Regions from separate parts of the Homo sapiens genome. Here all the other regions are linked to region 6. The links come from fine-mapping of genetic effects on gene expression. A gene starts in region 6. Each other region holds a variant in brackets. All regions are shown on one strand. Distances are between the middles of the regions.

What was found.
Region 1: its variant is fine-mapped to the expression of TBC1D9B in whole blood (TOPMed, PIP above 0.99).
Region 2: its variant is fine-mapped to the expression of TBC1D9B in whole blood (TOPMed, PIP above 0.99).
Region 3: its variant is fine-mapped to the expression of TBC1D9B in whole blood (INTERVAL, PIP 0.98).
Region 4: its variant is fine-mapped to the expression of TBC1D9B in whole blood (INTERVAL, PIP above 0.99).
Region 5: its variant is fine-mapped to the expression of TBC1D9B in whole blood (TOPMed, PIP above 0.99).
Region 7: its variant is fine-mapped to the expression of TBC1D9B in whole blood (TOPMed, PIP above 0.99).

What each region holds. Positions count from the first base shown.
Region 1 is chr5:180,025,292-180,029,291 of GRCh38, forward strand. The region is part of intron 2 of RNF130 (ring finger protein 130); the gene reads right to left. Among named protein-coding and RNA genes, the nearest start is that of MIR340, 12 kb to the left of the region's middle. RefSeq lists a silencer at 2,338-2,632. The variant G/A (reference allele first, on the strand shown) is at 2,137.
Region 2 is chr5:180,057,687-180,061,686 of GRCh38, forward strand. The region is part of intron 1 of RNF130 (ring finger protein 130); the gene reads right to left. Among named protein-coding and RNA genes, the nearest start is that of RNF130, 12 kb to the right of the region's middle. RefSeq lists an enhancer at 3,438-4,000. The variant G/C (reference allele first, on the strand shown) is at 2,486.
Region 3 is chr5:180,146,216-180,150,612 of GRCh38, forward strand. All of the region lies in intron 1 of RASGEF1C (RasGEF domain family member 1C), which reads right to left. Among named protein-coding and RNA genes, the nearest start is that of RASGEF1C, 61 kb to the right of the region's middle. The variant C/T (reference allele first, on the strand shown) is at 2,683.
Region 4 is chr5:179,525,182-179,529,578 of GRCh38, forward strand. All of the region lies in intron 4 of LOC128966623 (a long non-coding RNA gene), which reads left to right. Among named protein-coding and RNA genes, the nearest start is that of RUFY1, 23 kb to the right of the region's middle. The variant C/T (reference allele first, on the strand shown) is at 2,684.
Region 5 is chr5:179,878,739-179,883,135 of GRCh38, forward strand. It overlaps TBC1D9B (TBC1 domain family member 9B), which reads right to left. Exons shown (of 21, transcript NM_015043.4): 8 at 890-1,051; 9 at 309-459. Among named protein-coding and RNA genes, the nearest start is that of MRNIP-DT, 22 kb to the left of the region's middle. The variant CCT/C (reference allele first, on the strand shown) is at 2,060.
Region 6 is chr5:179,906,028-179,910,424 of GRCh38, forward strand. TBC1D9B (TBC1 domain family member 9B) reads right to left here and starts at 1,870. Exons shown (of 21, transcript NM_015043.4): 1 at 1,677-1,870. The coding sequence starts at 1,794. RefSeq lists an enhancer at 824-1,601 and silencers at 1,482-1,531, 1,582-1,721, 1,732-1,791, 1,862-2,021.
Region 7 is chr5:180,071,227-180,075,612 of GRCh38, forward strand. It overlaps RNF130 (ring finger protein 130), which reads right to left and starts at 533. Exons shown (of 9, transcript NM_018434.6): 1 at 230-533. The coding sequence starts at 476. RefSeq lists an enhancer at 207-914 and a silencer at 804-883. The variant G/C (reference allele first, on the strand shown) is at 1,628.

The sequences.
Region 1 (4,000 bases), 120 kb after region 6:
AGTATTTCAAACCCATGTAGATCCTTTATATGATTTTACCTTCCTCCTCTTCTGCTGCCAGTGAGGAAAGAGAAGCACAGAAAAGACAAAAAAGTAAATCAAGTGACAACTTCAAACAACCCACTTGGGACACGGAGACTGCAAGGAAGGCTAGAGGACAGTCTCATGTATCTGCTGGTGAAGGCACTCTCCAGTTCCACTTCAGATTTAAAGAAAAAAGAAAATTAAGAGCTTATGGAAGTTTTAAAATGGAACCATTGCATTTATTTTATTAAAGGCTATTTTTATTTTTTTAAAGCTACTGCTTAAGTGTTTCAGTTTTAGATTTTGATAATTATGAATTTTTTTTAAAAAAATGTATGAACCAGATGGAAGATACAGTAGAAGCATGTGCAAACTCAGGCAAAAATATAAATGCAATTTAAACCCTTACTTCCTGCCACAGCAGTACACTTCAATTCCAAGCTCCATCTTTTCTGAGGTAGTTAAATCCATATTCAATTAGAAGCTAAAAAACTTTAAACGGTAAAACAATAGTATACTTATATTACTCATTTTCTTGATAGGCATTTAGAATAAAGAAAATAGATTTACGTTAAGTGGCCCAAATTACTGATACGTAAAGGTATTCTACAATGTGTTTGTGATTTCTTTTTACTTGTTTTCATAAAGTATTTTTTGTATTCACAGTGAATTTTCTATATTTTACAAAGTGTGACATTTTTCTATTCAATGCTAGATAATAAATATAGAGCTAAATACGTTTTTAAGAGAATATGATGGAAAAAAGGTGAAGAGCCATTCAACTAATTTTGTTCAACCATCCAAAAAAAAAAAAGAAAAACCCAGTAAGAAGCATCTGATATTGCTGATTGATAAAAAGATTAAAAAGCAACATTATTATTTGGTTACATGTTTATCTAAATTACCTCATCTTCCTTTCAACAATGGAAAGAATGTCCACAAAATTCTTACAGACATACAGATAAAACTACAGCTAATTCTATCAGACAGTGATTTAACACAACTTAAGATGATTAAACAATAACAGTAAAGTCTATATAAATCTTTAAAAACCAGGAAAATAAATCCATAATTTTCAGACAAGTATGCATTATTGTAAACTATCCAAGAACCCATAACGTCCCCTTCATACTACCACAGATCCGCTAACTACATGACAAAGAACTCACTCTGCTAACCAGAGGTAACAAGTGAAACCACACAATGAGTAGCCTTTCCTGTCAATGACGTCATGGACAGGGCACTGGAACAGACGTCCTTCAGTCACCAGGTGAAGGGCATGCTTTAGAATAAACAGGACCAAGCTCTTGGTTGACAAGGCAAGAAAACAAAATACTTACACTTGTATTGGTACATACAGTATATAGGGAATACTTATATTCCAATGTGGAATTTTAAAATTAGGTATAAAACATAGCCTTAAATGAAAAGAAAGCTTAACAACCAAACTAAATAACTTAATAAAATCATTTCAGAGCAAGCCATATTTATTTTGTTCAGGGCATTCTGCTGACCACTGCAGAGAACCGAAAGACATGACACAAACTTTAACTGCATGAAACCCTGGGCTTTTCCTTACTGCCAGTCCAGTATGCAAAGAATGACCACATGAAAGGAAAAGGACAATACTGTCATGGAGGCACAGAGAGGGCTCTGAAGACTGCAGGAGCCTTGGACTGTAAACTCAGTAAGGGCAATGATCCGGGTTTCTCTCCTTTTGACTTTTACCAGTTCTTACTAGTTCACATCAAAATGCACAGCACAGAGAGCTGCCAAACCACTGCTTCTGCCCTATGATGAAGGGAGGGCAAAACTGGCACAGGAGCAGGACGGGGTGAAAGCACGGGTCTCTGGGTCCATCCCTTGAGACTGTCTGGGGTGGGGTGGGGGGAGGATCCTGGAATCAGTGTCTTTCCAATTAGCTTATGTGATTCTGACACCAGGGTTCTTGAATTTCTGTAGACAGCACTGCCCTACAGGGTGAGAAGGGTTATCTGTGGAGGAAGGGAACTGAGTAACACATTGATGAGCCTGGAAAGCAAGGAGTTGCCAGTGTATAATGACCTTCTCTGAGTATAAGCAGAAACAGAAAGGCAGAGAGTTATGGCATAC[G/A]AAAGTCAGAAGAGGATCATAATTCTGGAGATTTACCGTGAATGCCTGGCTGAAAAGACGAGACTCAGAGAAGCTTCTGATAGTGTGTGTGTTCTCTGTGCTACTTAACCTGCACTTCTCACCCCATTCTTAGGACAGGCTTTCAGCTAGTGCAGCTCGCTGGACTGAAACAGGACCTTTCTATAACCACTGTCCCTCTCATCCTGAGCACCCACTCCATTAAGAACCCTAGCAGCCAGGACGCGTGCCTTCCTGCTCCACTCTTCCTCTCCACACGTCACCTGTGGGGCTTCTGTTGCCACCACTGGTTCCCTCCACACTCCCACCCAATGCTTCCTGCTGGTTTTCCAGGTCCCAATCAGATGGCAGAGAAGAAGCTAGGAACCCTGCTAGCTGCTTGAGACAGCTGCCATCATTCACTGGGGCTCCGGCTGCCCGGCTCTGTGGCTGCTGCCGGTGTGAGACTGCACACCCCAGTGCAGCGCTGGAAAGCACAGCTTAGGCCGCATCAACCTCATCGAGACCACGCCTCCCTTCTTTCAAATCCTCCCGTGTTACTAAGCGACAGTCCCTGCTTTAGGCACACTTCTGCTCTGAATTGAATTTACTATTACCCTATCCACCATGTTGAGCTGTGCTGTTTTTTTCCTGTACTTAAAATTACTTTTGTTTTGCTTTTCCCCACCTCAGATCCTTCACTTACAAGGGGCCTTTGGCCTAGAATACTCTTCTCAACTCCTCAACTCCGACTCGGATGCTGTTTCCTCAAGGCATTCCTCTCTGACCCCTTGGACCTAAGTCACTTCCCACAGTCATGACTTCGTACTCAATGTTCATCTTCTCTGCTTGTTATAACTCCATGGAAAGAGGCACCATGTGTGTCTTGTTTATGCTTGGAGCTCTAACAAGAGTTCAAAAAACAATTAGCATATAGAATCCAACTCCCTCTCTCTACTTGCAGTTACCTGATTTTCTCCATTTCCTTCCGACTCCCTCTCCTCTCACCAGATTTTTGATTCATGTGGTTCGTCTACTGAGAGGATTTTCTCTTTCTGGTCGAATCCTAAGTAATCCTCATTATGCAGGGCCTGGCACAATGAATGCCTCCTACATGAAGTCTTCCAGACCTGGGTCAGAACCCCTTTCGTAATAACACTACAGCTGATCCCGCTACGTAGGTATGCAAAGTTATGCACTGAGTGGTTCCCCAATTACTTCAGGCGTGTGTGTTTCCCTAAGGGAGGAAGTGTTCCCGGCAAACACTCACTCGTACATCCTTCTACAAATCCCTACAGTGTCCATCACAGAATGCCTGGCATATAGCAGGTATAAATCGATACCTGTTGATTAACTATTTTTTTGTACTAGATATATTTTAAACAATTAAGTTATATGGAAAAACACCAGGAGAATGAAGAAAAAGTATACTTAGAAATTTTTTTAAAGTGCCAATCTCAAAATGAAAGAAAAATTGATTTCATAATTTTATAAAAGCTACTGCTTATTCCAGGCATAAGAAAAATTGTACAACTGTTATACATTACAGTTTGTTAGCTCAATAAATTTTGCAATCACCCTCTTTTAGGTAGACGAGGATGCCAGTTTAAGGACTCCGTTACCCGAAATCACAAAGCTGATAATCAACTTGGTCTAAGATTCAAATCCCAATCTTGTGACTGTTTGACATTTATGCCAAATTCTTTTCTCTATTTTAGAGGTACTATATCATCCAACTAAAACATTTTTTTCTTCTATAACTAAAAATGATTGAGAATGTCATAAAAAATTAAAATCTGTGATAAATTATTAAATATGATTTTGGAAGATGAACAACCAGAAGAAACTGAGACAGCTATGGAAACAG
Region 2 (4,000 bases), 150 kb after region 6:
GGGACCCTTCCAGACCTTACCCTATGTACCTCTCCATCCGGCTCTTAATTTGTATCTTACATAACACCCTTTATAATAACAGGGACAGTAAGTAAAGTGTTTTCCTGAGTTCTATGAGCTGTTATATAGCAAATTATCAAACTGAGTAGGGCGTTACGGGAACCTCCTGAATTGTAGCCAAGTCAAGACAGATGTGTGGGTACCCTTTGTCCCACTACCTACAACCGGTGTCTGAAGTAGGGGGCGGTTTTGTGGGACTAGGCCCTTTACCTGTGGGGTCTGCGCTAACTTTACCAGGTAGTTAGTGTCAGAATTGAATTAAACTGTAGGACATCCAATTGATGTTGAAAATCCACACATTTGGTATCAGAGTGCTGCAGGTAAAAAGCTGTCCTTTACACATAAGTTAAGGAACAGGTATAAACTACGGTGTCAAAGCGAGGACAGAAGTTACTGCTGGGGAGCGAGGAGGGAAGGAGCCGTGACTGGAAGGGACCTGAGGTGGTCTGCAAAGCTGGCCACACTCAACTTCTCCACTAGGTTCATGGCTACATCAGTGTGTTCATTCTGTGGGAAGTCATCAGGCTGCAGACTTACGGTTGTGTATTTTTCAGTGTATGTTACAGCTGGTAAAAATGTGTGCTAATTTTTAAAAATCTGGTCACTTTATTCCCCAGGTTAAAATTCTTCAACAGTATTTTAACACATGCTACAACACAGATGAACCTGAGGACATATGCTAAGTGAAATAATCCAGTTACAAATTATGAGGAACTAACCTAGTCGAATTCATAGAGACAGAAAGTAGAGTGGTGTTCGCAGGGGCTGCGGCAGAGGGGGTAATGGAGTCTTGTCATTTAATGGGTATGTTTTTATTTTTTATTTTTGAGATGGAGTCTTGCTGTGTCGCCCAAGCTGGAGTGTAGTAGTGTGATCTCGGCTCACTACAACCTCTGCCTCCCGGGTTCAAGCGAGTCTCCTGCCTCAGCCTCCTGAGTAGCTGAGACTACAGGTGCACACCACCACGCCTGGCTAACGCTAATTTTTGTATTTTTAGTGGAGATGGGGTTTCACCATGTTAGCCAGGCTGGTCTCGAACTCGTGACCTCAAGTGATCTGCCCACCTCAGCCTCCCAAAGTGCTGGGATTACAGGCTGAGCCACTGCACCCAGCTGGTATAATGGGTATAGAGTTTCCATTTTGCAAGACAAAGAGTTCTGTAGATGGGTCGCACAACAGTGGAAATGTACTTACCATGACTTAACAGTTAGATGGTCAATTTATACGTTATTTTACCACAATTAAAAAATCTTAAAACACCAACAAAAATCCCTCCAATAGTTTTCCATTCCTCTTATATAAAGTCCAAAATCCTAACAAGGCCTGGAAAACACTGACTTTTTCAACTCTACTGTGCCCCACTCTCCCCCTTACTCTCTAACTCCTTTCAAATTCCACAAGTACATCACAGTTTTTGCACCTTTTAGTCTTCGTGTATATTTCCTTGGACTGAAACATCCTCCTTTCTGCCCCCTCTCAGTGTAATATCTGCTCATGCTGCCGTCTCAGCTGAAACATCATTTCTTCAGGGACGCCTTGACCACCCTAGACTGAGTCTCTTCTGCCATTTATGCTCTCAGCATCCCGATGCTTTCCCAAGACTATGATTAAATAATCGTGTTATGACCTGTGTAACGGTCTGCTTTCCCCAGATAGGACACAAGAGCTGACTCCTTTTACTTCCCCCCACCAGACAGCAACAGCATGCAGGAACTTCCTGTCCTGTCTGGAACTCAGTAGGTGCTTAATAATTATTTGATGAATGAATACTTGAGGCAGCTGTCCCACAGGAATTTAGGATTTTTCTGATCCAGATGAATTAGTCTGCTGATAACATGCAAATGAGAAGGTGCATCACTGACCTTTAAGGAGTCATAGAAAAGAAATGTTGGAAAACCAACCCGTGTACAGAGCACTGATACGAAACAATGAAGGTGAGCCGTGAAAACAACTGACCCATTAGGGTCCTGCTAAGCCTTAGAAAAATTTCACAAATGATTACTGAAGGAATAATCTGCAGACAGTGTGAAGAGAAAGCTGTAATGGTGGGGTGCCAGCACAGGCCTGCTACGTGAGAGAGGCAGAACGACGGCTCCCTCAAAGACGTCCATCTCCCAATCCCCAGGACCTGTCAGTGAATACATCAGGTTACAGAGCAAGGGGGAACTAGGTTGCAGATGAAACAAGGTTGATCATCGGCTGACTTTACAATAAAGAGATTCTCCTGGACTGTCTGGGTGGGCCCAATGTAATCACAAGTGTCTTTTAAATGTGGGTGACAGACGGAGAAAGTCAAAGTCAGAGACTTGAAGATGGGGGAAGGGGCCATGGGCCAGGGAACACAGGCAGCTTCTACAAGCTGAAAAAGGCAAGGAAATGATTCCCCCTGAGAGCTCCAAAGCCACGCAGTCTTGCCAACACCTTG[G/C]TCTCACTGAGGCCAGTAAAACTCATTTCAGAATTCTGACCCCCAGAACTGTAAGAGGAGTAAATTGGTGTTGCTGTGAGCCACCTAGTTTTTGGTGATTTGTTACTGCGGCAATAAGAAACTAACACACCAAGGCTAAGCCATGAAAGATTCACTTCTTTTCCTTCCGTGCAGTGGCTCCTGGCCTAGCCAATCAGGAACAAAGTACATAGAGTATCCTTGTTTTTTCCAGCAAAGCATCTGATTATGTCTTTTATGGTATCATAAGCTGAAGAAACACATGCTAAATGCAAAGTCAATAAAGTGAGTTAGAACTCTGTGAAACGGCCATCCTTGAAGAGTGCTGATTAATGGAATAACGCCCAGCAGCCTAGATTTTTACCAACACACCGCGAGGGCCTGTCCGTTCACTTGCCAGCACTTCCACCCTAACTTAGCGCAGGGATTCTTAACTTGGGGCTTCAAGAGGCAACTGGCCTCCTAACCTTATTAAAAGTTCTGTGTATCTCTACATAAATACGTAGTCTTCTGGAGAAAGGTACACCGCTTTCATCACTTATCAAAGGGGATCTATAAAGCAAAAGGCTAAGAACCACTAACCTAGATGAAGATACAGAAAGCTATGTTCGGCCGGGCGCCTGTAATCCCAGCACTTTGGGAGGCCGAGGTGGGCGGATCACGAGGTCGGGCGATCGAGACCATCCTGGCTAACACGGTGAAACCCCGTCTCTACTAAAAATACAAAAAATTAGCTGGGCGAGGTAGTGGGCGCCTGTAGTCCCAGCTACGCGGGAGGCTGAGGCAGGAGAATGGCGTGAACCCCGGGGGGGCGGAGCCTGCAGTGAGCCAAGATTGTCCCACTGCACTCCAGCCTGGGCGACAGCGAGACTCCGTCTCAAAAAAAAAAAAAAAAAAAAAAAAAGCTATGTTCATGCATTCACTAGTGACACAAGCTGCTAGAAAGAGTAAAGACTGTGGGTGACGCATCAGGATTCAGCAAGTATCCTGAAAGGCTGAATGAAATGGCTGATGGCTTAGGAGCAGCCTCGGTGGAAAACACTGGAAGTTTAATCAACAGTGGGCTCAGGATGGTCTTTTGGAAAAAACCACAACAACTGACGTGACTTCAGGCACATCCAGAAGGATGAAGAAAGTATAGCTCGACTCTCTCCTGTGCTGGCAAAGCTAACCCTGCATGCCTGTGTTCAACGCTGGGATTCTCTTTGTATTAGTTTCCAGTGGCGGCCGCAAGACATCACAAACTTGGTGGCTTAAAACAACATAGTCTCATTGTCTCACAGTTCTGGGGCCCCAAAGTCTGGTGTGAGCAGGGCTGATTCCTACTGGAGGCTCAAGGGAAAAACCACCTCCAGCCCCTCTCCCAGCGTCTGATGGCTGCTAGCCATCCTTTGCACCCGCCGGTTTGTGGCAGAATGATGCCATCTCTGTAACCTCCTTCTTCCTATGGCCGCCTTCTCTGTGTGTCTTCCTGTATCTTTTCCTCTTCTTATAAGG
Region 3 (4,397 bases), 240 kb after region 6:
CACTGCAACCTCTGCCTCCCAGGTTCAAGTGATTCTCCTGTCTCAGCCTCATGAATAGCTGGGACTACAGGTGCATGCCACCACACCCGGCTCATTTTGTATTTTGTATTTTGGTACTTTTAACACGGTTTCACCATGTTGCGCAGGCTGGTTTCCAACTCCTGAGCTCAAGTGATCCGTTCAAAGTGTTGGGATTACAGGCATGAGCCACTGTGCTTGGCCAGCTATGTGTTTTTCATATGTGACTTTTATTATGTTGAGGTAGTTTCCTTCTATTCCAGTTTTTGGAGTACTTTTTTTTTTTGTCATGAAAGGGCATTGAATTTTGTTTAATGCTTTTTTCTTCATCAATTGAAATGATCATGTGTTTTTTCCTTCATCATGTTAATCTATTGTATTACATTGATTGATTTTCGTATGTTGAACCATCTTTGCATTCCAGGAATAAACCTCCCTTGGTTGTGGTGTATAATTTTCTTTAATATGCTGCTGAACTTGGTTTGCTAGTATTTTGTTGAGGATGTTTGCATCATAAGGGATATTGGTCTGTAGTTTACTTCTTGTAGTGCTTCTGTCTGGCTTTGGTATCAAGGTGATGCTGACCTCATAAAATGAGTTAGGAAGTGTTTCTGCCTCTTTAATTTTTAGGAAAAGTTTGAGAAGCATTGGTGATGGTTCTTTTTTAAATGTTTGGTAGAATTCACCAGTGAAACCACCAGGTCCAGGACTTTTTTGTTGTTGGAAGGCTTTTAATTACTAATTAAACCTCATTATTAGTTATAGGTCTATTTACGGTTTCTAATTTTTTTTTCATGATTTCAGTTTCTAGGAATTTCATCTAGAAATTCCAATTTGTTCAAATTTCCAATTTGTTGGCATATAATTTTTTATAGTACTCTTATAATCCCTTTAATTTATGTGAATTGGTAATAGTATCCCTACTCTCATTTCTGATTTTAATAACTTCAGTCATCTCTTTTTTTTCAGTCAGTCTAGCTAAAGGTTTGTCAATTTTGTTAATCTTTTTGAAGAACCAACTTTAGGCTTTTTAAATTTTTTTCTATTGTTTTTCTATTCTCTTTTATTTATCTCTTCTCTAATCTTTATAATTTCCCTCCTTCTGCTAGCTTTGGGTTTAGTTTGTTCCTCTTTTTCTAGCTCTTTACATTGTACAATTAGGTTGTTATTTTGAGATCTTTCTTCTTTTTTAATGTGTTTACAGCTATAAATTTTCCATTAAGGACAGTTTTTGCTGTATCCCATGTTTTAGTATGTTGTGTTTTCATTTTCATTCATCTCTAAGTATTTTCGAATTTCCCTTGGGACTTGTTCTTCAATGCATAGGTTGTTTAAGAATGTGTTGTTTACTTTCCACAAATTTGTGAATTTTCCAGTTTTCCTTCTATTATTGATTTCTAATTTCATCCTGTCATAGTTGGAGAGGATACTTCATATGATATCTCTCTTTTAAAATTTATTGAGGCTTAATCTGTGTCCTAACATATGGTTTATCCTGGAGAATATCCCACGTGCACTTTAGAAGACTGTGTATGTTGTTGTTGAGTAGAGTTCTGTATATGTCTGTTAGACCTAGTTGGCTTATTGTGTTGTGTAAGTCTTTTATTTCCTTACTTATCTTCTGTCTGGGCATTCTATCCATTATTGAGAGTGAGGTAGCAGCTGCTGAAATAGCTTAGTTGGGAAAGCATTAGACTGGAGAGTGAGGTATTGCAGTCTCTGACTATTACTATAGAGCTGTCCATTTCTCCTTTCAATTCTGCCCATTTTTGCTTCATATATTTTAATGACCTGTTTTGGGGTCATAAATGTTTATAATTGTTAAGTCTTCTTGCTATATTAAATTTTCATTGATATGTGATACCCTTCTTTGTCTCTGGTAATCCTTTAAAATTTAAAGTATTTTTTCTGTTATTAGTATGGCTGCTCCCACTCTCTTTTTGTTACTGTTTACATGGAGTATCTTTTTCAGTCCCTTCATGTTTAACCTATTTATGACTTTGGATCTAAAATGAATCTCTTGTGGACAATATATAGTTGGATCTTTTTTAAAAAATCCATTCTGCCAATCTTTGTCTTTTGACTAGAGAGTGTAATCTATTTCCTTTTTAAATAATAACTGTTAAGACAGGATTTACTCCTGCCATTTTGCTGTTTTTTTTTTTCTATTGCCTTGTATCTTTTTGTTCCTTATTTCCTGCAGTACTGTGTTCTTTTTTTGTGGTGAAACATTAATTCCTTTCTTGTTTCCTTTTGTGTATATCCTATAGCTACTTTCTTTGTGGCAACCATGGGAATTACATTTAACATCCTAAAGTTACAACACTCTAATTTGAATTTAGACCAGTTTAACTTCAGTAGCATTCAAAAACTCTGCTCCTATACAGTTCTGTCCCCACCCTGTTAGTTACTGATGTCACAAAATTACATTTTTATTATGTTCAAAAGCACAGACTTAATACTTATTTTCTTAATGTATTAGTCTCTTAAATCATGTAAAAAAAAGGTAGAGTTACAAATCAGTTATCATAATACCAGCTTTTATAATTGCCCATGGATAAATCTTTACCAGATATTTTTGTTAACACAGCTTTGAATTACTCTTTAGTGTCTTTCATTTCAACCTGAAGCACTTCATTTAGTATTTCTCCTAGGTAGGCCTTG[C/T]GGTAGTGACTTTCTTCGATTCTTGTTTATCTAGGAATGTCTTAACTTTGTACTCATTTTTGAAGGACAGTTTTGCCATACATAGGATTCTTGGTTGACAGGTTTTTTTACTTTCAGCATTTTGAATACATCAACCGATTGCCTTCTGGCCTCTAAGGTTTCTTTTCTACTTTTTCTTTTCTTTTTTTTTCTTTTTTTTTTTTTTTTTTGAGACAGAGTCTTGCTCTGTCACCAGGCTGGAGTGCAATGGCACAATCTCGGCTCACTGCAAACTCTGCCTCCTGGGTTCAAGTGATTTTCCTGCCTCAGCCTCCCAAGTAGTTGGGACTACAGGTACACACTACCACGCCCAGCTAATTTTTGTATTTTTAGTAGAGACGGAGTTTCACCATGTTGGCCAGGATGGTCTCAATATCCTGACCTCATGATCTGCCCACCTCAGCCTCCCAAAGTGCTGGGATTACAGGTTATAGGTGTGAGCCACTGTGCCCGCCAAGGCCTCTAAGGTTTCCGTGGGAAATTTCTTGATAATCTTACTGAGGATCAGTTTTTGTTTTGTTTTGTTTTGTTTTTTGAGACAGAGTCTAGCTCTGTCACCAGGCTGAAGTGTGGTGGCACAATCTTGGCTCACTGCAATGCACTCCAACTCCCTGGTTCAAGCGATTCTCCTGCCTCGGCCTCCCAAGTAGCTGGGACTACAGGCATGCACCACCACGCCCAGCTAATTTTTGTATTTTTAGTAGAGATGGGGTTTCACCATGTTGGCCAGGATGGTCTCCATCTCTTGACCTCTCGATCCACCCGCCTCGGCCTCCCAAAGTGCTGGGATTACAGGCGTGAGCCACTGCGCCCAGCCGAGGACCCCTTTTATGTGATGACTCACTTCTTTCTTGCTGCTCTCAATATTCTCTATTTGTTGTTGTATTTTCCAGTTTGATTATAATGTGTCTCACTGTGGGTCTCTTTGAGTTTATCCTACTTGGTTCACTGGGTTTCCTGGATGTTTATATTCATGTTTTTCATCAAATTTGGGAAGTTTTCAGCCATTAATTATTCAGATAATCTCTCTATACCTTTCTCTCCCTTCTTTTTCTGGGACTCTCACAAAGTGTATGTTGGTCTGCTTTATGGTATTGCTTAGGTCCTGTAGGTTCTGTTCACTTTTTCAATCTTTTTTATTTTCCTGTTCCTCAGACTCAATAATTTCAATTGCCCTATCTTCAAGTTTGCTGATTCTTTCTTTGACCTCCTCAGATCTGCTTTTGAATACCTCTAGTGAATTTTTCATTTCAGTTATTGTACTTTATAGCTCCAAAATTTATTTTTGGTTCCTTTGTATGTTTTTCTGTCTCTTTATTGATAGTTCCATTTTGTTCATACATCTTTTTCTTGACTGCTACTTCACGTCTTTGCACATCTTTAGGACAGTTGTTTCAAAGCCTTTGTCTAATAAGTCTGTCATGTAGTCTTTCTCAGGGACAGTTTTTGTTGATTTACTTATTTTTCCTTCAAATGATCCATGTTTTCCTGTTTCTTTATATGCCTTGTGGTATTTATTTTGTAGAAAACTGGACATTTGACTCTTGCAATGTGGCAACTCTTGAAATCAGATTCTCCTCCTTCCCCAGGGATTAAAAAAAAAAAAATGTTGGCTGGGTGCTGTGGCTCACACCTGTAATCCTAGCACTTTGGGAGGCTGAGGTAGGCGGATCACC
Region 4 (4,397 bases), 380 kb before region 6:
GTATGGCAGTATTTCTATTTTATCCTATGGCAAAATAATTCTTCCTAATTTTAATATTATTTTGTTCCTTAAAATTTAATACCTTCAAATGATATTACCTATGTTTCCAGGATTTGACAAAGTCTTAATGTTCAGCCAACATGGCTTAAGCTGATGAACTACTTAAAAGGATTCTTTTCTTTTTTTTTTTTTTTTTTTGAGACAGAGTCTCGCTCTGTCACCCAGGCCGGAGTGCAGTGGTGTGATCTCGGCTCACTGCAACCTCCACCTCCTGGGTTCAAGCGATTCTCCTGCCTCAGCCTCCCGAGTAGCTGGGATTACAGACATGCACCACCACAGCTGGCTAATTTTTGTATTTTTAGTAGAGACGGGGTTTCACCATGTTGGCCAGGCTGGTCTCGAACTCCTGGCCTCAGGTGATCCACTCCCCTTGGTCTCCCAAACTGCTGGGATTAGAGGCGTGAGCCACCAAGTCCAGCCGGAGGATTCATTGTTTAAATAATTCTAAGAAATGCACATTTTCCAAGACTCAGGAGGTCAGGCTTCATTTTATATTCAGTAAAGGGTTTAAAAAGGATGTGATGCTCCAAATAAACTGAAATCTTACACAGCTTCTCACGGAATGTGTGCCTGAGACAGACGCACAGCCATCCCAACTACTGGGAAGAGGCGTCTTATCATCCGAATTGAAGAAAGTGTCCATTTAGTCAACATGTGTATTAGAATAATGAAAGGCCTCACTACTTATATGCCCAGCACTTTCTAAAGGGTGCACTTTGGTTAGACTGTGTATTTCTTACTGCTCATAAGTAACACATTGTCGTTGGCTTGTTAAAGTCTGCTTTAATATCATCTGTCAAGTATGTGTCACTGGTGAAGTCTCTCAGATTATCCCTCAGGGTGAAAGCATCACACTCCTTTCTTCAAAAGGAGCAAAGTCGACACGAGGGCCCTTGCAGCCAATTTGTTCCAACAAGAACTTCCCTCCTATTCCTTATAATTACAAATTTATACCTATTATATTTTCTATTTTACTCCCTTCAATGTCATTGAATCTCAAAATGATGAAACACGGTCATGAGTGTCCTCTAGTACACCACTGGCTTGTATTCTTTTTATAGTGTGCCAGATGTTTAATCATCAGAAAAACGGACCAATTAGGAAAGATTTCCATATAGAAAATACATTACAGAGTACTGCACCCTTTTTAAACTGACTTTTTATACAGGTTTAAACTAAATGATCATGTCTTTTGACTTAAAGTTGTTTGGGGTAGCCACAATGTCTGAAAACAGACTACTGTCCATAATAAATAGTTTATTGTTATGACATGTTTAATGTGCTGCCCCTCACTAGGAATTCTTAGTTCAACAGGTTGTGCAAAACCGCAATGCATGGTGTGCCTTAAAGCAACGTTCCCATCATCTGCTGCACCTGCGTCCACCATACATTGCTGCAGATGATTTATGTGTCCAACTTCCCGGGTGTAAACTTATGCCTTTACCCCAGAAGAATAAGTGGGTTCAATCTATTAGAAAAATACTGTCAATATTTCCAGACTTCTTTATTTTTGGAGACAGGGTCTCACACCCAGGCTGGAGTGCAGTGGCACATCACGGCTCATTGTAGCCTTGAACTCCTGGGCTCAAACGATCCTCCTGCGTCAGTCTCCCGAGTAGCTGGGACCAACAGGTATGTGCCACCATGCCTGGCTAATTGCTTTTTTTTTTTTTTTTTTTTTTTTTTTTGGTGGAGATTGTGTTGCCTAGGCTGGTCTTGAACTCCTGGCCTCAAGTGATCCTCCCACCTCAGCCTCCCAGAGTGTGGGATTACAGGCATGAGCCACCATGTCTGGCCTTGGTTTTGAAATAGATATTTATTTAAAATAGGTTTCACACTGATTTCAATAAATCAGGCACTCCAGAACACAATGTATAGGGTGGCAATTATATGTTGACTTCTTAATACTCCAAGAGATAAAGATCTTTTCCAAATAAGCAAAAAAAGTAGTCATTGTGCAATATTAGCCTCTAAGAGCAATTTCCCTTTATAGACTACAATATTACTGACAGTTTCATGCACTTTTGCTTTATAAAGAACTCCACAGGAAGAAATTTCCCCAGTCTTTCCCGGTAGACACAGCTACATTTTCTGTCACACACAAACCATTGTCACAGTACAGCATGTCCAGATCCAAAGAATCAAGGGGTTTCACAATTGCTTCCCCAATGTATGCCATGAGGTTGGTCAGATTTGAAACCATTCCCGTGACAGGATCAATCTTTATAATTGTGCCCCTGCCGTATGGATGGTTTGCATTTCCCAAACAGGAGTGTCCTGGGTTACTCAGAGGTGTGCCATGGAGCCCTCCCTTGGCCGTTTTATAATAACCAGAACAGCCCATTTCCCCATGGACACACATTCCAAGCTCTCCACAGCCCAGTACCACCGTTATGCAAAGGATATGGATGGAACTCACATTCAGAAAGCTAGAAAATAAGGCTGTGCCAGGCACAGTAGATGAGCAATGAGAAGATGCCAATGTCTTTTCTAGAAGCATGAGTGATCCAGCTCTTTGGTTCTGAACATTTCTGTGCTTTAGCGTTTCTCTCCCTCATTCACAGTAAAGACATCTGCAGCTCTTCCCTCCTGAGATAAGAAACTGGAACAGCCACCACCTGCT[C/T]CCTGATGTTTTCACCATCTCTGCCACTTGTTACAACGACCACTTAGCCAGACATCTCGGCGCAGGGATCCCCCTTAAACTGCAGAAGCAAGACCAGCCCACCACCCTTTCTTTTTATTCCTGCCATAATTTGATGCTAGTAACACTCTGCCTACCTACTTCCAATGGTAACAAATATTTTGTAGAATATGCAAGTTTATTTTGTAGATTGTGGTCCCTGGAGTGAGAGAAACTCTCCACCTACCAGACCTGTGACTTAGGTAAGTCACTCTGTGTCTCCAAACTTAATTTCCTTGATGTGGAAAATGGGGATAGAAGTTAATAACATTGCAGGAAAGGGGACATGAGTTATAATATAAAACTCTCTGCATGGTTCCTATTGGATAATTTTGCTATTATTATTGCTTGTATTTTTGTCACATTATAACCAACTTAGTTTTACTTGTTAAAGTACACACAATTGGGTTTTTTTAAAAGAATTAATTTAATTTACTAGCACAAAAGCTAGTGTTAAAAATAGGTGTTAAAAATTGAGTCCCGGCAGGGCACCGTGGCTCACGCCTGCAATCCCAGCACTTCGGGAGGTCCAGGCTGGCAGATCACTTGAGGTCAGGAGTTTGAGACCAGCCTGGCCAACATGGTGAAACTCCATTTCTACTAAAAATATAAGAAATAGCCGGGCGTGGTGGCTCGTGCCTGTAGTCCCAGCTACTCAGGAGGCTGAGACAGGAAAATTGCTTGAACCGGGAGGCAGAGGGTGCAGTGAGCCAAGATGGCGCCACTGCACTCCAGCCTGGGCAACAGAGTGAGAATCTGTTTAAAAAAAAAAAAGAAAAAAAAAGTGAGTCCCATCTGATAAACCGAATATTTAAGTAAATTTGAAATATTTTTTGCCCCATGATATTTAGGGGTTTCTACTAATTGACTTTGATGTTCAAGGGCTGTTTTGTGATCCCAAAGCCATTGCCACTTTTACTTTGAACAAGCTGGACTCATGGGGTACTCCAGAGCCAACTCTGTTTTCTCCACGCAGCCTGCTCCTTGCTGCTGGTTCTGAGTCCCTGAATGAAATCTGGGATCTTCATGGCTTACCTACTTACATTCAGGAAAATAAAAAAAAAATCCTCCAGTCATCTCCAATAACAAGAAGAGGTCTGATTTCACTCATTAAACTATGCAGTGTGATGTCATAGCCAAATGGCCACACCGCATTGGAGAGCCAAGTTTTCTCTCCCAGAACAGCCTGCCTGGGCGCGGGCCACCATGCCCGGCTAATTTTTGTATTTTTAGTAGAGACAGGGTTTCACCATGCTGGCCAGCCTGGTCTCGAACTCCTGACCTCGCGATCCGCCAGCCTCGGCCTCCCAAAGTGCTGGGATTACAGGCGTGAGCCATTGTGCCGGGCCACTTTTCTTTCTTTCTTTTTTCTCTTTTTTTTTTTTTTTTGAGACAGAGTCTCGCTCTGTCGCCCAGGCTGGAGTGCAGTGGTGCCATCTCGGCTCACTGCAAGCTCCGCTTCTCAGGTTCACGCCATTCTCCTGCCTCAGCCTCCCGAGTAGCTGGGACTACAGGCGCCCGCCACCACACCCGGCTAATTTTTTGTATTTTTACTAGAGACGGGGTTTCGCCATGTTAGCCAGGATGGTCTCCATCTCCTGACCTCGTGATCCACCTGCCTGAGCCTCCCCAAAGTGCTGGGATTACAGGCGTGAGC
Region 5 (4,397 bases), 27 kb before region 6:
GAATGCTGTCAGAGCCTGTCCCAAGGAAAGGAGGCCTCTAGGGGACCTGTTTCCCTCCCGCTGTGGGCGGGAGGGCACCACCCGGCCAGCAGAGTGCCCATTCCCCAGCCTCTGTCCCTCGAGATGCTCCTTCTGGTTGGGTCCCGGGCCAGAGCCCAGAGCCCAGAGCCCGGCTCCCGGCTGTGTGAAAGAGCTGGGAGCTCCTGCCTGGCCAACTCCAGGCCGGCTCAGGACAGACGAGCTCACACGGGGAGAGCTTGGGGACTGACTGGCTGAGCTGAGGCTGGGGGTGGCTGCACCCCACTCACCGGAGAAGAGGAGCCACAGCTCTCCCCGGAGGCTCTCAGGGATACCCTTCAGGACCAGTGCCCGCGTCTTGGCTGTGCGGTACATGCACACGCCACGCCCGTACTCGAAGAAGTGGATGTGCCATGACTCCTCTTTCATCTTCTCCTTGGCCTGAGGGAAAAGCGCATCAGGGAGCCTGGGGGCCGAAGCGCATCTGAGTGCCGAGGCCTAGGCCACCGCGGAAGCCTCGTGAACACTCCAGACAGTGCTGGCCAGCAAGTGTGGCCTTCCTCGCAATTCCCGGGAAAGACCAGGCCGCGCTGAGCCACACCTCCCAAGGCTCAGGAGACCAGCTCCTCAGCGGGAGGGCCCTTCCCTTCAGAGGCCTGGAGTCCGTGGCAAACAGCACACTGAGCAGGTCAGCGGAGCCCCCCAGAGAGTGCCTGCTCCGTCTCACGCTGCCAGGGTGCAGCCTGGGTGGGCACTGCCCAGCGGTCAGCCCAGGGCCCTGAGGGAAGGCCCAGGCCCAGGACTGGCTCCAGCTTTCCTCCTGAGGGCTCCGCTCTTGACGGAGGCTGGAGTGCCGGCGCTCAGGGCTCACCCCCTTGGCTCCAAGGTCCTCCATGGGCGAGTTTTTCTGGAAGAGCTTCAGCAGGCCCTGGGATGCGGTTGGCGCCTCCTGCGCACAGAAGCTCTGGCGGCTGCTGAGGGGAGAGGCTGGGCTGGCGGGCTGCTCCGACCCCTCCTGAGGAGCTGGGGAAGACTAGAAAATAAAACAGGGAAGGGGACGCCCTAACAACTGTGCTGCCAGGTGGCCTCTGATGCGCCCATCCATCCAGAGCTGGATCGGGGCCCGGTGCAAGAAGGGCCATGGGGGCAAACGGTGCACGGAGAAGAGCCTGTCTGGCTGGGCAGGAGGCTGTGGCTGCAGCTCAGCCCTCAGCTCCTCTCTGGCTGCTGGACACCGAGTCCTCAGTAATTAACCCCACTCTCACCAGCGAGTCAGTCTCAGGGAGCGGGTTCTGGGCTCACCCTGTGGGGCCCTTTTCTGAGGGGGGTCAGTGCAAAGGACAGGAGAGGCCCTATCCTAACGTGGAGGCACACCCCTGCCCACCCTCGGGCCCATGCTTCCTGGGCTGCACAGAGGGCTGGGTGATGGCCTGTGATGTTGGGCTGGGCTCAGGGTGGGTTTAGGGCGACTGCGTCACCCGGTTGCTACCAAGGAAATGAGTGGCCCTTCTGCAGGAGTGTTGGGATAACCCAGGGAGCATGCAAGGCCTGCTGCTGCCATCATGGTGCCACACCGGCCTGAGAGTGATGCTGTCTTGGCAGAAAGCAAAGTCCAGTGGGGGAGAGCCCAGCTCGACCAGGGCCAGCTGACTGCCTGAACTTCTTGGCTGGGCAGGTGGTCGATTCCCCATGGTGGGCTCTGGCCTGGGCTGGGCTCTCTACCCCTCACACCCTCCCACTGGCTCTGGTCCCGTGGCCACGGTCCCACTCCACCCAGGGCTGGGGCAGCTGCCAGGGTGCTGGGCGCCCTCCTAAAACACTTCACATTCTGTGTTTTTTTGAGAGAACCCTGATCTTGACTGTGGTGATGGCTTCATGGGCGTATACCTGTTAAAACGTACCAAATTGTATTCCTTAAATATGTACAGTGTATTGCGTATCAATTTTACCTCAATAAAGTTGTTATTAATATAAAAGGAAAAAGGAAAAAAAAAAAGAGAGAACTCTGCTAGGTTCACACCCACAGTCTACCCCTCTGGCC[CCT/C]GTGATGTTAGAAATGGATTTTGGGTCCACTTAAACAAATGTTGACGACAAGCTGCCTGAATCCAGTGGGCACGGCCCCAGCGCAGACTGACTGCCTGCCTGGAGATCCTGCTTCCCACCTGAGCTCCCCCAGAGGGACCGACTAGGACACACACGGGCTCGCAGGCTGTGAGGTGCCTTGGAGGATCACACATCTCAGTGCCAGGGAAGGAGCCACACCGCCGGGTGTGTGGCGTGCAGCAGACGTGTGCTCCTGGCCAGGGAAGGGGCCAGACCGCCGGGTGTGTGGCGTGCAGCCAACGTGTGCTCCTGGCGAGGCGGCAAGCGTGGCACCAAGCTCAGGGACCAGGCGGCTTTCGGCAGAAGCTTGGCTCAAGTCCCACCTTACATTCGGGCTTACTGGCCTCAGGTGGGTGCTCAGAGCTGCCTGGGATCTTATGTATTCCTAGTCCAGTCCTCCCCTCTTCCCCGAGGTAACCACCTCACATAAACCTCCAAAACCACTTGCCATCCTTGCATCCCACTGAACCACACTTCTTCCTGTTTAACTGAGAACAGGGAACAATCCGAGCCCTCCACGGGTGCCCTCCTGCCCGCCCACCTGCCTGCACCTGGACCCCATCCCCTGCCTTCTCTGCAGGAGTCGCTCTCCCAGCACAGAACTGCACTGTTACTCCTCTAAAGCCCACCCTCACTTTGGCTGGGTGCTGTTCACCTATTATGCTCCCTCTGCTAAGATTCATCCAGTTGTACACCGTATGTTTACTTTTGGATATATATGTTAAACTTCAATTAAAATTCTAGCCCTCCCAGAAGTTACCTCCATTACTCTGTTGACCTTTATACAAAATTTCTTGAAAGAGATGCTTAATCTCACTGTCTCCTTTCCCCCTTTCAAGTTTTTTTCCCTGTTAGAAAGTGTATATTTATACTGTAACATTTTATGCTAATATCATTATATAGTTTCTTAGTCCTCTCTTTTTAAGATGTCAGTTCCCTACTACAAGCAATATTGAAATTAGCTAGCAGGCCTTTTCTTCCCACTTTCCTCCCTCTCTGCCAACATCTGATCAAAAGGATATATTTTTAATTAATAAGGCAATCAGTGAGCTTATTCTATTTTCCATATCTTTCCATATACCTTCCGTTTTTTTTTTTTTTTTGAGATGGAGTCTTGCTCTGTCACCCAGGCAGGAGTACAGAGGTGTGATCTCAGCTCACTGCAACCTCTGCCTCCTGGGCTCAGGCAATTCTCCTGCCTCAGGTTCCCAAGTAGCTGGGATTACAGGTGTGTGCCACCATGCCCGGCTAATTTTTGTATTTTTAATAGAGACGAGGTTTCACCATATTGGCCAGGCTGGTCTCAAACTCCCAACTTCAGGTGACCCGCCTGCCTCGGCCTCCCAAAGTGTTGGGATTACAGGCATGAGCCATCAAGCCCAGCCTCATATACCTCCCTAACCTCAGGTTTTGATTGTACTATGTCTCCATCATCAGAGATTATAACATTTATATACTGTCACCTCTATTCCTACTATCTAACCTTAATTCCACAGCTAAATATAATCAATGCTACCACCAGTCGTTAGGCCCAAGCTGCTTCCATCACTCCTTGGTTATCTGGAGTCTGTTCTCCAGCAGACTCCACAGAAGCTGAGAGAGCCCCTGAACTCCTCTGCATGTTCTTTACAGCCTATGGTCTTTATACCTGAACGTCAGTTTGGCTGGGTATAAAATCCCTGGGTCACAGCTTCTTTTATTGTATATCTTAAAAATGTTACTCTGTATAATCTCAGCACTCTGGGAGGCTGAGGCAGGTGGATCACCCTAGGTCAGGAGTTCGAGATCAGTCTGGCCAACATGGTGAAATCTCAACCCCATCTCTACAAAAAATACAAAAATTAGCCAGGCATGGTGGCACATACACGTAGTCCCAGCTACTCACGGGCCTGAGGCACAAGACTGCTTGAACCTGGGAGGCAGAGGTTGCAGTGAGCCGAGATTGTGCCACTGCACTCCAGGAGACACCCTCCCCAACCCCCAACAAAAAGTTACTCTAAAATGTTGTTACTGTATCACAAAGTCTGATACCTCTCTTGAGGAGGAATCTCTCAGGATCGTGGCCCATTGCAACCTCCTTCTCCCACCTCCTGGGTTCAAGTGATTCTTGTGCCTCAGCCTCCCAAGTAGCTGTGATTCCAGGCATGTGCCACTATACCTAGCTTAGTTTTGTATTTTTAGTAGAGACAGAGTTTCACCATGTTGGCCAGGCTGGTTTTGAACTTCTGGCCTCAAGTGATCTGCCTGCTTCAGCCTCCCAAAGTGCTGGGATTACA
Region 6 (4,397 bases):
TGCCACCATGCCTGGATAAATTTTATATTTTTAGTAGAGACGGGGTTTTGCCATGTTGGCCAAGCTAGCTATTCAGATTCTTTAATGAAAAGTCTAGGTTGGCATGTTTTTAATAGATGGCTTGGATAAAACCACATCCCTGTCTGCTCCTCTTCAGGGAGGACAGTACTCAGGAGGCCACGATGCCCATGATGGCACAGGGAAGGCCCTGTCAGAGGGCACAGCAGGACACACCAAACCTAGCAGTGGGGAGAGATTGGGAGAGGGTTCAAAGAAGGGTTCCCTTGGGGGGACCCTGGGAGCTCGGTCCCAGGGGACACGGAGAGTGAGGTGGAAAGGAGAAGAGCCCGCAGGAAGGAGGTGTACAGAGACCGGGCTGCACCTGCACCCGCCCGTTCAATGAGACGACCCACATAAGCCTGCCGAGCACAGCACAAGTGTTTCAAGTACACCAGCGAATATGACACACTGGCGCGCTGATGACACCCTGGCGCGCTGGCGGAAGAAAAGGTGCCGGTCCCTCGCTTTCTTCATCGGGCTTGCAGTAGCTTCGAGGTTAGCCACAGGGGCTGCCGACTGAACAGCTGGATCTAGGAGGCGGGTCCAGAACAGGAGCCCGAGATCCTTGAAGCCCACTGGGAGGGAACCCGAAGCTGAAGGGAACACTGAGTGTTTCTGGGAACAGAACAGTCTCTTCCACATGAAGAAACGTGGCCCAGGAGAAGCCTCCGTCTGCATCTGGCTATTAGCTGCTCACACTGAAAATCAGGATGATTCACAGAAAATGCTCTTGATAAACTGGACGACCTGGCAACACTGGGACCGCAATCCTGTAGGGCAACAGTCGGTGCCCCGAAGAGCACAGGCACTGAGCCCGAGCCAGCCGGGCTCCTGCAGTGCTGGGCGCAGGCCCTGGAGCATGAGGGGCCCCGGACACCACCTGCGGAGGGAGTGGCCTGTGGGCCTCCCCTGGATCCCACAGGCCGCACGACTCCAAGGGTGCCTGTCCAGCTTCATCCTGTGTGATGGTGGCACCCGGGCCCACAAAGGGCCACCTTGGCGAGCTTGCAGGAACACCCTGTGCCGCTACCCACAGCCTTGGGTGCGCAGCTCTGAGAGCAGCCAGGAGCAGGAAAGGTGGGGGAGGAGAAGCTGGGGGAATGGGGGTGCGGCCAGCTCCAGGGACCTCTGATCTTGCTAAAAGGGCGATACTTTGGTGAGATGGGCACGAAGAAGAGGGCAAAAGAAAACGTGCGCTGGCGTCACCTGGCCCCTTAGAGGCACCTGGGGAAACTGAGGTGGAGGATGAGGACAGGGCGGTCTCGCCAACTTTCGGCGGTGAGATCCCGGGAAGCTGCACGGCCCCCGGGGCTCGCGGGCGCCGAATCCGGGCAGAAGCCGCCGCCGGTCTCCACTTGGCCGCCCCAAGCCGACCTGAGGAGAGCCCGCCGAGGGCGCATTCGCCTCCCGCCAGCCCCTCGCCTCCCCGCCCCGGCCCCTCCGCGCCCGGCTCCCGGGTCCTGGCCTCGCGCCCCCGCCCCGCCGCGCGCTGGCGTGCGTGTCCGCCGCGACGCGCCGAGGCCGGGCCGGAACCGGACCCGCCCGCCGCCCGCCGCCAGCCCCGCCGCCAGCCCAGCCGCGGCGCCCACAGGCCCGGCCGCCCGCGCGCCTCTCACCCGTAAGGCCGCCGCCCCTGCCGTGGCCCCGGCGTCGCTGCAGCACGAAGAAGGGGTTGGCCCGCTCCGTCACCCACAGCGCATTGGCCACCAGCACCTCCTCCGGGCTCAGCCACATCGCGGAGCCGCTCGCACCGGGCCGAGGCCCGCGAGACGGAAGCGCCCGCCGCCGTCGGCGTCCCGGAGCGGAGCGTGCGGAGCGGAGCGTGCGGAGCGGGCCGGGGCGGGGCGGGGCCGGGCGGGCGGCGCCCCCTGGCGGGCGTGTGGCGCTCCCGCACGCGGCCCGAGTTCCGCGCCGCCCCCTCAGCCCCGGCCTCGGGCGCGCGCCAGCCTGGCCTCCTGGAGCGGTGCAGCCCACGGCCTCCGGCCTGGGTCCAGAACGGAACGGCCCAGTCCGCAGACAGGGGAGCCGCTGTGCAGAGCAGGGCTTCTGGCGTTTTGAAAGCTGTGCAGTGTGAGAGAAGGATGTCAAGAAGCAGAGTTTGGCGGCTTTTGGCTGGTTGCGCGTGCAACCCGGGGCGTGTTAGCACTGCAAAGGGCGCCTGGAAAGGGTTTGCAGTTCCTCCTAATTCTCAGCTTTCTTTTCTTTTTTTTTTTTCGACAGAGTCTTGCTGTGTCGCCCAGGCTGGAGTGCAGTGGCGCAATCTCAGCTCACTGCAACCTCTGCCTCCCGGGTTCAAGTGATTCTCCTGCCCCAGCCTCTTTAGCTGGGATTACAGGCTCCCGCCAACACGCCCGGCTAATTTTTTTGTATTTTTAGTAGAGACGGGGTTTCACCATGTTGGCCAGGCTGGTCTCGAACTCCTGACCTCGGGTGATCCGCCTACATTGGCCTCCCAAGTCCTGGGATTACAGGAGTGAACCATCGCGCCCGGCCAGTTCTCAGAATTCTGACACTGGGGCCGGGAGACTAGAAGAATCTTCCAGCGCAGGGCAGGTGCCAGGAGGCCCTGATACGGGCTGCATCCTTGGAAATCAGTGCTGCCCCTCCCCTGACAGACGGGTCACAGAGGCTGGCCGGCCCTGGGGATGGGGTCTGGACTGGCCCTGGGCCCAGTGGCGGCTTCTGCGCAAGTGTGAGGCTGGCTGCAGGCGAATGCGGGTCCCTGGTCTCCCAGTGTTGGCCTGCAGGGGCAGCGCCAGTCCACACACAGCCTTCTGCATGAGGGGGCTGTCAACTCCACCTGGGACAACGGGCCTGGGGCCTGTCCGGGGTCGACTGGGATGTGGGGTCACCCTGCTGGCTGGAACCCTCACCAGGGTCTGGCTAGAGGGCAAAGGGAAGGGGGCAGTTAAACCATCCTTGGAGCTGGACCTGACTTCCAGGTGGGTTTCTGTGATTGGCACTCAAGAATCTTGGTGCGATGGATGTAGGTACATGCAGTTGACACCCAGAGTGATCTGCAGTCTTCTTCAATGTTGCTGGATATAGGAATCAGCTTTCAAGATGCAGAGGCGGGCTTTCTTCAACACCTTGGAAGTCTGAACTAATATTGTCATTGTGCTCTCTAGAGGGAAAGAATTTGGAAGAACTGCACTTTTTAACACCCTGAGAGGAGGTAAAGAGTCGTCTTGTTCCTTAATCCCAGTGGTTCTCAAATTGGGTATACATTAGGATCACCTGGAAGGCTGATTCAAACAGGCTGCTGTAGTCCCAGCCACTTGGGAGGCTGAGGTGGTAGGATCACTTGAGGCCAGGAGTTCAAAATCGGCCAGGGCAATATAGCAAGACTCCATCTGAAAACAAAACAAAACAAAAAACAGCCACACAGGTTGCTGCCCCCTCCCTCCCAGGGTGTTTGCACTGCTAACTCGTTCCTAGGTGATGTTGATGCTGCTGACCTGGAGACCACTCCTCGAGAATGGTTTTTTATAAGAAGAAAAAGAACAAACATTTATCGATCACTTAGTATGTGCGTGCTAAGCTTACTTCTTTTTGATTTTCTGAGATATAAGTCACATTCCGTAACGTTCACTCTTTTAAAGTGCAAAACGTAGTGGTTTTTAGTATATTCACTAGGCTGGGCATCCATCATCACTAATTCCAGAACATTTTTATCAAGTCAAAAGAAACCCCTTACCCATTAGCTGCCATTCCCCACTTCCCCCCGGCTTTGCCCTGGCAACCATCAATCTATTTTGTCTCTATACATTTTTCCCATTCTAGCCATTTCTTCATATAAATGGAACCTTACAATATGTGGTCTTTTGTGTCTGTCTTCTTTCACTTCCCATCATGTGTTCGAGGTTCACCCACGTTGTAGCACGTATTGATGCTTCATTCCTCCTTATGGCTGAATAGTACCCCACGGTATGGATGCACCGCATTTTATTCATTTGGATGGACATTTGGATTGTTTACCCCTCGTCTATTATAAATAATGCTGCCATGAACATGTGTACAAGTCTTTGTGTGAATATGTGTTTTTAATTCTCTTGGGCATATATTGAGGAGTGGTATTGTTGGGTCATGTGGTACAGCTATGTTTAACTTTTTAAGCAGTGACCACACTGCGCTCCAAAGCAGCTGTAGCATTCCACATGCCCACCAGCTGGGTGTAAGAGTTCTAGGCAGGGCGCGGCGGCTCACGCCTGTAACCCCAGCACTTTGGGAGGCCGAGGTGGGCAGATCACAAGGTTAGGAGATCAAGACCATCCTGGCTAACACGGTGAAACCCCGTCTCTACTAAAAATACAAAAATTAGCCGGACGTGGTGGCAT
Region 7 (4,386 bases), 170 kb after region 6:
GACCGTTCCAAGTCTTTTTTAAAAGAAGGGAAAAACCCAGTCACGCTCCTGGAGCCTGGTTCCCACGGGAGCAGGCCGGGCTGTCCACGACGGAAGCCTCGACCCTGGCTGGGGCTGTCGGCCGGGCAGCGCGGGAGAGCCAGGGCCAGAGCCGGGGCCGGGAACCCTAGTCCCGCCGCCTACGCGGGATGCAGCGACCACCGCCCGCCGCCCCCGGGCCGGCACTCACCTCCGTGGAGGGGCAGCGGCGCCAGCACCTGGCCGCGGACCTCGGCCTTGGGGGAGTCAAGCCCGTAGCGCCCGCGGTCGATGCGAAACGTGAGCGGGGCGCCGCGGCCGGGCTCCTGCACCGTCACGTTGATGAGCGCCGTGTAGTACTCCTGGCTCGCGTTGTCTGCCCGTGCCGGCCACAGGCTGCAGGTCAGCAGGGCGAGCGCGGCGAGCCGGGCAGGGCCCGCCCGCCCCGCGCAGCTCATCGTCCCTCCGGCAGCCGCCGCTGCTCGCGGACCGGGCTCCGGGGCCGGCGCCTAGAGGCGGGGCGGGCGCGGCCCGGGCGGCGGCGGGAGCGCGCGCGCGCGGCCTGCGCGGGGCCGAGCCCGAGCGCGGCCCTCCTGGACGCCGCGGCCCCGCCGCTCGCCGCCCTCACGTCCACTGCCCGCCTGTGGGGACGCGCCCATGGGCCCTCGGCGAGGGCGGCGTCTCAGGTCGCACGCGGGCGTCTCTTCGGGGTCCCAGGAGGGTTGTAGAAGCGTGCCCCCTCCATCCCCCCGGGTCGGTCCCACCGAATGGGAGGCGCCTCGCAAGGACGCGGCGGGGGAGGGGAAGGGCGGCACGGGAGGAAGCGCCCCGAGGAGGGTCAGCGGAACACAAAGTCCCTCTCGCGCGGCTGCCGCCTGAGGCGCGTGTCCGCCGCCGCCCCGCCCCCCCGCTGGTCTAGCGGCAACGCGCAGGCCTAAGGCGCAGTCCCGCCCCGAGCGCATGCGTGCCAGGGCCTGTCCGCTCCCGCCCGCCTGCACGAGGGCCCGGGCAGCCGGGTCAGCCGCTGGTGCTGGTTGTTTCTCTGTCAGGCGTGATAGCCGCAGGGCGTGGAGCCCGGGAGATTTGCGAGGACGTATGGAAATGTGTGAGAACAGACTACAAAGGAAAAAAAGCCATAACTTTAAAAGAAATGTTTAAAATTAAATGTCATGAGATTTAACATTCACGTCATGCGGTTGACATCATGGATGGGGGATGTCTCTGGCCCGGACCTGCAGGGACACGAGTGGTTGGGAAAGACCTCTAGGGTAGCCGTCCCTAACCATTTTGGCACTGGGGGACGGGTTTCCAGGAAGAGAGTTTTTCCAGGGACTGAGGGAGTTGAAGTGGTTTCCGGATGAGGCTGCTCCACCTCAGATCATCAGGCGTTAGATTCTCGTAAGAAGTGGGCAACCTAGGTCCCAAGCATGCGCAGTTCACAGCCGGGTTCACGTTGCTATGAGAGTCTAATGCCGCCCTGATCTGACAGGAGGCGGAGCTCAGGCGGTGATGCTCACTCACCTCCTGCTCGCTTACTGGTTCCTCGAAGGCCCTGGGCCGGTACAGGTCCGCGGCCGGGCGGTTGGGGAGCCCCTGCTCTAGTGACTAG[G/C]TGAACTACTCCAGGGGCCCCCGGACCAGAGGGTTGCAGTGGGAACCCCCCCTCCACCTTCCGAAACGCGCGCGCGCGCACACACACACGACTCTCATTTTCTCTCTCCATGGCGTTTAAAAGATACACATCGCTATAAAGTATCAGCTAAAAGGAAGAATGGGGCAGTGCAGCCGAATTCAGGAACTTACAGGATCTTTGTGGGGAGGCGGAGGGGGAAAGTTTGGCGTCTTCTGACCAGCCAGGGTTGAGTCTCCTGTCTCCTACTGCGGGAAGTGGGTGGAGTCAGCTTTGCACAACCAAATGTTCTGAAAATCCGGAAAAGAGGTGGCTCCCCAAAAAGAAATTTGAGGCACTGTTTCCAGGAAAGGGTACGGATGCAGTGCAGGCTAAAACTTAAGATGCCCACCACTGGCCAGGCGCGGTGGCTCACGCCCGTAATCGCAGCACTTTGGGAGGCCTAGGTGGGCGGATCACGAGGTCAGGAGTTCGAGACCAGCTTGGCCAACATGGTGAAACCCCGTCTCTACTAAAAATAAAAAAATTAGTCGTGGTGATGCGTGCCTGTAGTCCCAGCTACTCGGGAGGCTGAGGCAGGAGAATCGTTGGAACCCGGGAAGCGGAGGTTGCAGTGAGCAGAGATCGAGCCACTGCACTCCAGCCTGGGCGACAGAGCAAGACTCCGTCTCAGAAAAAGAAAAAAGAAAGAAAACAGATGTCCACTATTGATGACTTGGCAGACATCCTTTACAATTTCTCCCTCCATTTCCCTCTCTTCCATCCTCTACCATAGTCCTTATAAACCGTGCCCTGGCCTATGGAGAACGGCTTTTACTTATTTACTTATCCTCGGCAAGTACAGACCCTAGGCCAAAGCAGCGGGGTCCTCGCCCTGGGCCTGGCACCTAAAGAGTGCTCTAATCTGGTCCCCTCCAGCTGGACCCTTCATAGGGCAAGGAGTCCTTAGCACCAAGGTACCCATGCTCTAGCACCTAAGACCCAGAAATTCCTTCTCCCCACAGCCCAGGGCCACATCTAGGGCCTGTGTAGGGCTCTTCCCGGTGACGGTCTCCTGCTCTTCTTGCTGGGCATGCCCTGGCCTACCCCTGCCCAAGAGGCTCATGGCCTCTACTCCTTTGTCCTTATAAAGGAGGAGTCTTCAAACTGTAAGGTGCCCATGACCCCTGGCACAAGAAACAATTATAGAAGCTCACAAGCACCACTTTGTTAATCAGGTGGGGAGGAAGTGGCTTTCTCAACCCTTCTGAATTTGTCAAGGAGAAAATTGGTTCCAGAGCACCTTTAACACTTCCCTGGCACTTGCTGATCTCCCCTTTAAATAAAGCAAGATGAGGTCTCGGTGCACAGCCTCATCACGCACCAGCATGTACGGCAACATTCACACCAGCCTGTACTTGGGAGTGGCATTGTCTTTTAAGGAAACCTCAAGGTTTTAAGGAGACCTTAGGGAGACAAGAAGTTTTTCATTTATAATAGTGATACAACGCTACCTTTTAAAATATTATGGTAAAATACACATAACATAAAATTGTCCATCTTAACCATTTTTAAGCATATGGATCAGTGGCATTAAGTACATTCACATCGTTGTGTAACCTTTGCCATCCATCTCCAGAACTCTTTCCATCTTGTAAAACTGAAACTCTGCACCCATTAAACGTTCCCCCTTCCCCAACTACCATTCTTCTTTTCTGTCTCTATGATTTTGATGATTCTACTTACCCGCATAAGTGGAATCATATAGTATTTGTCCTTTTGTGAGTAGCTTATCTTGCTTTGCACGATGTCCTTGAGGTTCACCTCTGTTGAAGTACGTATCAGATTTCCTCCTTTGCTAAGGCTGAATCATATCACATTGTATGTATATTCCAAGTTTTTTTTTAGCCATTCATCCATTCCACTGTATGTATATAATACACTTTGTTTATCCATTCATCATAGGACACTTGGTTGCCTCTACTGTTTGGCTATTGTGAATAATGATGCTATGAACATTGGGCGTATAAATATCCCTTCCTGCTTTCAATTCTTTTGTGTATATACTCAGAAGTGGAATTACCAGATCTAATGGTAATTCTATGCTTAATTTTTTTCAGGAACTGCCCTACTGTTTTTTTAATAGTAGCTGCCCCATTTTACATTCCCACCAACTGCACAAGGGTTCCAGTTTCTTCTCATCCTTGCCAACACTTCTCTACTTCTTTTTCAAAATAGTAGCCATCTAAATGGGTATTAGGTGGTCTCTCATTATGGTTTTGATTTGCATTTCCCTAATGATTAGTGGTGCTGAACATCTTTTCATGTGCTTATTGGCCATGTGTATATCTTTACACGATGCTATCTTTTAAAACATTTAAGAAAAAAGTGAATTAAAAGTATTGGTTAAATAAAAGTACGAGTGGTTTTATCGGACATGGCAGGTCTCACGGAGGATGTGTGCCGCAGTCTGGCTCTGGCCCACGCTGGCCTGTGAATGAGCTGCCCACGAACCTTTTTCCTTAATGGGGTTATTTCCCTGACTCCACCACGCACCATATTCCCCTGCCTCTGTGTCCATTTCTCAGCCTACAATAAATCCTAGGTCACCTGTAAGCCCCAGCTCAAAATCCCCTTCTCCCCAGAACTCCAGTGGGGCCCGAGCTGCCAGCCTCCCACATCCAGGCCCCGTAAGAGCTTCAGTCCTTCAGGAGGAGATCTGTCTCCCCTGTGAGCAATGTCTGCCCTCCCAGGACAGCAGA